Linked DNA regions of Homo sapiens. The protein of the gene in region 1 interacts with the protein of each later gene in a pairwise test. Each region holds a gene or a part of one and is shown on either strand. Other genes may lie near its edges.

Region 1 (3,196 bases):
TCTCCAGAACTGCACAGTCCAATAGGCAGCCACAAGCCACACACAGCTATTTAAATGTAAGTGAATTTAAACTACATTTTCAGCTCGTCAATTGCACTAACCCCATTTCAAGTGTTCAATAGCCACATGTAACTTGTGGCTACCATATTGGATAGCACAGATATAGAACATTTCTGTCACTGCAGAAAAGTCTACAACGCAGGGCTGCTCTAATGAGAGCTCTGGGATCCGAAAGCCTGAATTCCAGGGCATCCTTAAGGGGCAGAAGTAAAAGGCCTTCCCCAACCATCATGCCCCACTGTGGTCTCCTCTGCCTCCAAGTGGCCTTGTCTTCCTCATCCCCTATGGAAAGACCCCCACCTGCTGTTCACCGTGCACCCATCCCTCTCCCACCCCCAGGGCAAAAGCATTTGGTTACCCTGTGATGTCACACCTGTGCGGGTAACGTCATGCACTGTGGGCATCTCTCTGTAATATGGAAGCCCCTCCCACCACAGACACCACAGATGCTGGGGTTCTGGACAGATTTCTTTAGAATACATGTATTTGCACACATGAGAGCATTGGTCCAAATACATATATGCAGGCGCAGGCACACAAATATTTATATTAAAAGCCTAATTCCACAAATGGCTGTAATTAAGACACAAAGCAAAACCTCATGAGGTTGCTCCCTTCAACTCACACATTTACTCTGCCATGCTCTGGCAGCAGGGGAACAAAAAATGGAAGATTTGCTTGACTCTGCAGACAGAGGGAAATGAGGCTCAGTAAGGAGGCCACACAGCAATTCACTAGCTAATTCAAGCAAAAGCCAGATATCCTTCCTGCTAGCCCACAGCTCTGTCCTGTCCATTCGTTTGGTATTGTATTCATTCACTCAACAAACATATGTGAGAACCTACGGTGTGCATGCTCTGTACTGGGCCACACAGAGATTACACAGTCAATGAGACATGAATCTGGCCCTCTATGGTCTAGGAGCTAGGACATGTTGGTTGCCAACTATAGAAGCAGGGATATCACAGTCATACCACCAGGGGCAGGCTCAGAGAAGTCCCGGAGAGGCTGCTTCAGATCTGAGTCCCATGCCAAGCACTAGGCTGCTCTGTGCTTCACCCAGCTGTACTTCTCCGGCCCTTCATTCCTTTTCTATCTTCAACCTGGCAAAGAATAAGCTATTCTTCATTTATTCTGGGCAGCCAGTTAATATTAATACCAGGGTTAATAGACCTGTTTCTCCTGTACACCATCTTGTCTGCTCCTCTACCTAAAATTGCCCTAAGATAAGTTCTAAAAATCCTTCTTCTCGTGGGCAGGTCACAGTGCTGCTGTGTTCCACTGAATAGAGATAAACGACGAGAGTTGGTCATATTCATAGCTGACCAAATACGTGCGGTGAGAGTGTAGGGGTGTTGAGATAGCCCCCAGGGCAGATCCTGGAGCCTTGACTTTTGTGTACCCAGGATGCTTTCCTGTCCCCTTCTTCTAGGGACACTATCTCTGTTCTTTTAGATAACTCCACCCATCTCCATGCAGTCTAGTGGAACTGCCAATCACAGGGTCCCTCCTGTATCAGTTATGAAAGCATTCAACTGTAATGAACAGAAAACCCATTGAAGGGTAGTTTTAAGGAATAAAAATCAAGGTTTATTTCATTACCATAACCAGAACTCTGGAGCAGGTGGTCTGGGGCTAGCGCAGTGACAGTGATGCCATCGGTAAGGCTGGCTCCTCCTTCCCGCTCTGCCATCCTTTCCATGTTGGCTTGCCACCCCAGGTGCCAGATGGTAGCTACCCCTCCAAGGCTCACATCCATGTTACTAGTAGCAAGAAGTAGCAGGGAGAAGGTAAAAAATGCTCTCTCCCAACAGGACTTTTCCTAGACCTCCCTAGGACTTTCTGCTGCATCTCATTGACCAGAAGAGAGTCACATGATCGTCACCACCTATAAGGGAGGGAGGGAGAGAGTGTTGTGCTTTCAGTCCTCTGTACAAGAGGACAGCAAGGGGGAGGGGATTGGGATGGGTGTGAAGTGAGAATGCCTACAGTTCCTGCTGCCTCCCCATCAAGGCTGGATTAATCACGGTTCCGCATTCTCAGAGAAACAGCCATTGATCTAAGGGAGGGTGCATGCCTCAGGTTGGGGAGTGGGGGGGAAGTCCCCTGGCCTTACACAAATTGGAGGGGGTGGAGTAGCCCTTTCTTGTCTTGGTTTATAAATTAGGCCTGGCGGCATGAGTCAGGGTCAAGTTAATGCAATAGAATCCAGTCCAGCTGATTTAAGCAGAAAAAGACCTATCATTGGCAATCAACTCCAACCTGGCCACCTAGCTCTCTGACACTGATGACCTGACTGGGTGACAGAATCGTGACTCCAGCACGTCATGCCACAGTCCTCGGACAGGGTCTTATGTGCTAAGGAGAGACACCTGGACACCACAATCCTGCACCAGGTACCATCTGCACACAGCAGGCCACCTCCAGCCAGCTAATGCTGATACAACTGACGTGTTGGCAGCCAGCTGACATCAGAGACTGTGGTTTCCTGCTATGGGACAGAGAATTTGCAATCTGTTGGTTTTCAAAGACCTACCCCATTTCACCTCCCCCATCTCATCCTGAACAACCTTCCAAGACCCTGGCCTGAATCAGGTTTCCTGTTTGGCAATAAAACTTTTTCACTCAGTGCTCAATGTTTGGTCTTTAATGGCCTTTATTTTCTCTTTAACTTGGACTGTTAAATGCACCCCCACCCCTGGGAAGCCTGAAGAGACTCTAGGGTTGAGCTCTAGTTTGAGCTCTGGGATTAACTCTCAGGAGAGACACACCCACAGAACTAGGTCACTGAGAGGGTTGCTGTCTCTCTGATCAAGAAATAGCCTTTTTCAGATGCCACCATGATAAAGTCACTCCAGGAAAAACAGAACCCCTCACTTGCCAGCAAAAAAAACCAGCAGAAGCATGGGCTCCTTCTCCAATCTGCTTTTGAAAATCTTGCTAAAGTGCATCTAATGTGTAGAATCTAACTCTCATCCAGATTGGTAGCTGCAAGAGAGGCTGGGAAATGTGGTTTTCAGTCTTTTAGCCTCAACAGTACAGGATAGCCCTCTAGAAGGAGGGTAGAAGAGATGCTCAGTGCCTGTCTACCACATCCTCCCTGCTGGGCTGCCAATCAGCTGCTGTCCTCTGCCAC
Region 2 (3,500 bases), on another chromosome or scaffold:
CTCAGCACTTTGGGAGTCGGAGGTGGGCAGATCACCTGAGGTCAGGAGTTCGAGACCCAGCCTGGCCAACATGGTGAAGCCCCACCACTACTAAAAATACAAAAATTAGCCTAGCGTGGTGACGTGCGCCTGTAGTCCCAGCTACTTGGGAGCCTGAGGCAGGGGAATCACTTGAACCTGGGAGGTGGAGGTTGTAGTGAGCTAACGCCAGTGCACTCCAGCCTGGGCGACAGAGCGAGACTCCTTCTCAAAAGAAAAAACAAAGAAAAGAGGTTTATTTGGTTCATGGATCTGCAGGCTATTCAAGAACCATGGCGCCAACATCTGCTTCTGGTGAAGGTCTCAGGGAGCTTTCAATCATGATGCGCAAGGGGAAGGAGAGCCAGTTTGTAACATAGCGGGAGAAACAGCAAGCTGAGGTTGGGGGGGTGGTGGGCAATGCCATGTTCTTTCAAACAACCAGATCTCATATGAACTACAGGGAAAACTTGCTCATTACTGCAGGGAGGGCACGAAACACCTCCCACTAGGTGCACTTCCACCATTGGGGATCATATTTCAACATGAGATTTGGAGGGGACAAGCATCCCAACTATGTGAGAGGTTTGATGACCTATTTTTGAACCTTTGCATTTTCTGAATTCAAAAAAAAAATTCCCTATCAGAAAGAAACTGAAGCACTTATTTCCCAGAAACTAAGAAATGCTAGATGATCCATGCTTCTCTACAGCTTGGTGAGCTCACTGTATTTCCACTAGAATGGAAGCCCTCTGATGGGAGGGAGTTTTATCTATTCTGTTAACCTCTGTATGCACAGAGACTAGAACAGTACCTGACACATAATAGGTGCTCAATAAACATTTGAGTGAATGAATAAGGAACCTCTGCCCCCCCTTGGGACATCCTCCTGCTCTCTTCACTGGGACATTCTACTTCTTGTGTCAACCACAGGACTCCAAGTCATTTTAGTCAGTGATTTTAGTCATTTATTTATGTATTCATTGACCATTTCTCCTCCTGGCTCCTGAAGCCCTGGAGGGTAGCTGTTCCTTTCCAACTCCAGAACTTGGCTTGGTACCTGCTGGTGAGTCTGTGCCTATCAAATGCGGAATGAACGAAGTGTTTAGAAGTGAGGATCTCCTGAGCAGCTTCTTCCTGTGACTGAGATGGTGGATGAAGGGCTCTTCTGGGACCTCTGCTTTTATTTCCATGCTTGCTAAAGCAGCCAGCACATGGCTGTACTCAAGAGAACTTCCCCATCTACATTCCCATTTTAGGGCTGTGCTGTTTACAACAGCCTCAGATCCAGGTTGCAAGGAGGGGAGGGGAAGAAAGCACCCAGCTCACAGCAGGTGTTTATGAATCCTTCCTGCCAGCTTCAGAGAATCTAATTGGTCTGGTTATGTTGTGTTTAAAAAATTAACACATTGAATTGCTAAACCCATGTTGCATTAGTGCACAAACTATAGCTCTTCTCTGAAAGCTCCTCACACAGACAAGGGCAGACTTACCTTGTTTTAAAATTAGCATATTAAAATTGCTTTTCTGAGGACCTCTAGCATCCCCTCCCTCTACAGATAACAAGTATTGATGACATACTATCATTGTTTTTTTGACTGGGGGATATGTGAGTTAACAAAGAAAAGTTCTATCGCCCAAGCTTGTAAATTAGATGATTTTGTCCTGGGGTGTGCAAATCGACTTTCTCCATCAGGCAGCGCTTTGATCAGGGGCTGCAAGGAGCCAGCCTGTGTGAGAATGGCCACCTACACAGGAGCCTTTCTCTTCTTCCCCAGTTTCTGCAGCTAAGTGGTTGCCGTGGCAAGGCCCATCTTTTCAGCTGGGGGAGATGCTAGCCTTTGCAAGTTAGCTTTCTGCTACCCCCACCCCAGCCCAAAGAAAGGAGCTAAGCAAGAGGGAGATTAGGAAGAAGGAGGTAGAACAACTGGAGAGGTGGGGGGTTGGGTGGGGGGAGCGAGATGACAGGAAAAGGACAGAAAGCTGGGCAGCAGGGGTTCTCTCTGTTTGCTGCTTTTGGCAGGCGTACTCGGTGCCTTTTTATATTCTGCACTTGATTTGGAGATGTTCCCTTTTCCCTTGATAGATCAGCTTCAGGCAGCCAAGCTCAGCAGTGTTCTGCTACTAGCCTGCAGCAGCTTTCTTCATTTTCTGTACAAAGAGAGAGGGAGGAGGGAAGGAGAAAAACGAGGGAGATCGAGGACAGTGTTGAGACACCACCACCTCAAAGGTGCGCAGTGTGCGGCCAGGAAATAAATTACCACTTCTTCTCTGATCCAGGCCGTTTGACTCCCTTTTCCCCCACTTTCTTTCCTCCCACCTCCTTTCCAATCTTATTTTTTTAAATTTTCAACTCTCTTTCTGTTTAGATTCTACTTTCTATTCCTTGAGTTGGTCTCTCCCCTCCCCACCTCAGAGGGCTGCCTTTTTTTTTTTTTTTTTTTTTTTTTTTTTTTTTTTTTTGATGGTTGACAACAGTCTTTGAAGATTTTCTACTTCAAAGTAACTACTGATGGGCTGGTTGTACTACAGAAAGAACAAGCAGGGCCTCTCGGAGTGCGACCAACTGCTCCTGCCCAAGGCAAACGCTGGTGGGGACCATGGCTCTCCATGAGGCCATGGCGCTAGCGCATAAAAGTCCCGAGCAGCCCAGGCCGCCTTGCCATCCACTCTACACCCGAACATGGGTTTGCGGTGCACAGCGCCTGGTGCGGGAAGCTCCGGCCAAGCCACCGCCCACCTAGCCTGCTGAACGTGCCTCCTCCCTTTCCTTTCCACGTCCTGTAGAGAACCCACCGCCTGCCCAAGGAGATGACCCCCGTGGAACCCGCCACCTTTGCAGCTGAGCTGATCTCGAGGCTGGAAAAGCTGAAGCTGGAGTTGGAGAGCCGCCACAGCCTGGAGGAGCGCCTGCAGCAGATCCGAGAGGTAATGCGGCCTAGGCCTTCTTCCTGCTTCCGTCCACGGCGTGAGCGCTCGTATGTGTATGCGCATGTGCATGGGGTGCGTTAGGGTGTGCGCATGTGCGTGGGTTGCATGCGCATGCGCGTGGGCTGCGTGTGGGTGTGTGCCTGGGCGTGGGCTGTGTGCGCATGTGCATGGGTTGCGTGTGGGTGTGCATATGCGTGTGGATATGTGCTTGTGTAGGCGGGCCTGTGCGTGTGCGCATGGGCGTGGCTGTGGGCGTGCACACGGGTGTGCGTGCTCCTGCGTAGGGAGCCGAATGTTGCAACCCCAGGGCCTCTGGCCCTTCTGCTTCCTGGGTCACTTCTCCTTCTGACGTCTTCCCTTTCAGGATGAAGAGAGAGAGGGCTCCGAGCTCACACTCAATTCGCGGGAGGGGGCGCCCACGCAGCACCCCCTCTCCCTACTGCCCTCCGGCAGCTACGAGGAAGACCCGCAGACGATACTGGACGATCACCTGTCCAGGGTCCTCAAGACCCCTGGCTGCCAGTCTCCAGGCGTAGGCCGCTATAGCCCCC

What was found.
Region 2: the proteins of KCNK12 (region 1) and AXIN2 interact in a two-hybrid assay, tested with the Homo sapiens proteins (one large-scale study listed by BioGRID and IntAct).

The regions. Positions count from the first base shown.
Region 1 is NC_000002.12:47,508,790-47,511,985, reverse strand, and holds the end of KCNK12 (potassium channel subfamily K member 12), read left to right. Parts: 3' UTR 1-2,696; downstream 2,697-3,196. UniProt on the Homo sapiens protein: K(+) channel subunit that may homo- and heterodimerize to form functional channels with distinct regulatory and gating properties. Can heterodimerize with KCNK13 subunit to conduct K(+) outward rectifying currents at the plasma membrane.
Region 2 is NC_000017.11:65,537,649-65,541,148, reverse strand, and holds part of AXIN2 (axin-2), read left to right. Parts: intron 1-2,805; coding exon 2,806-2,946; intron 2,947-3,313; coding exon 3,314-3,500. UniProt on the Homo sapiens protein: Inhibitor of the Wnt signaling pathway. Down-regulates beta-catenin. Probably facilitate the phosphorylation of beta-catenin and APC by GSK3B.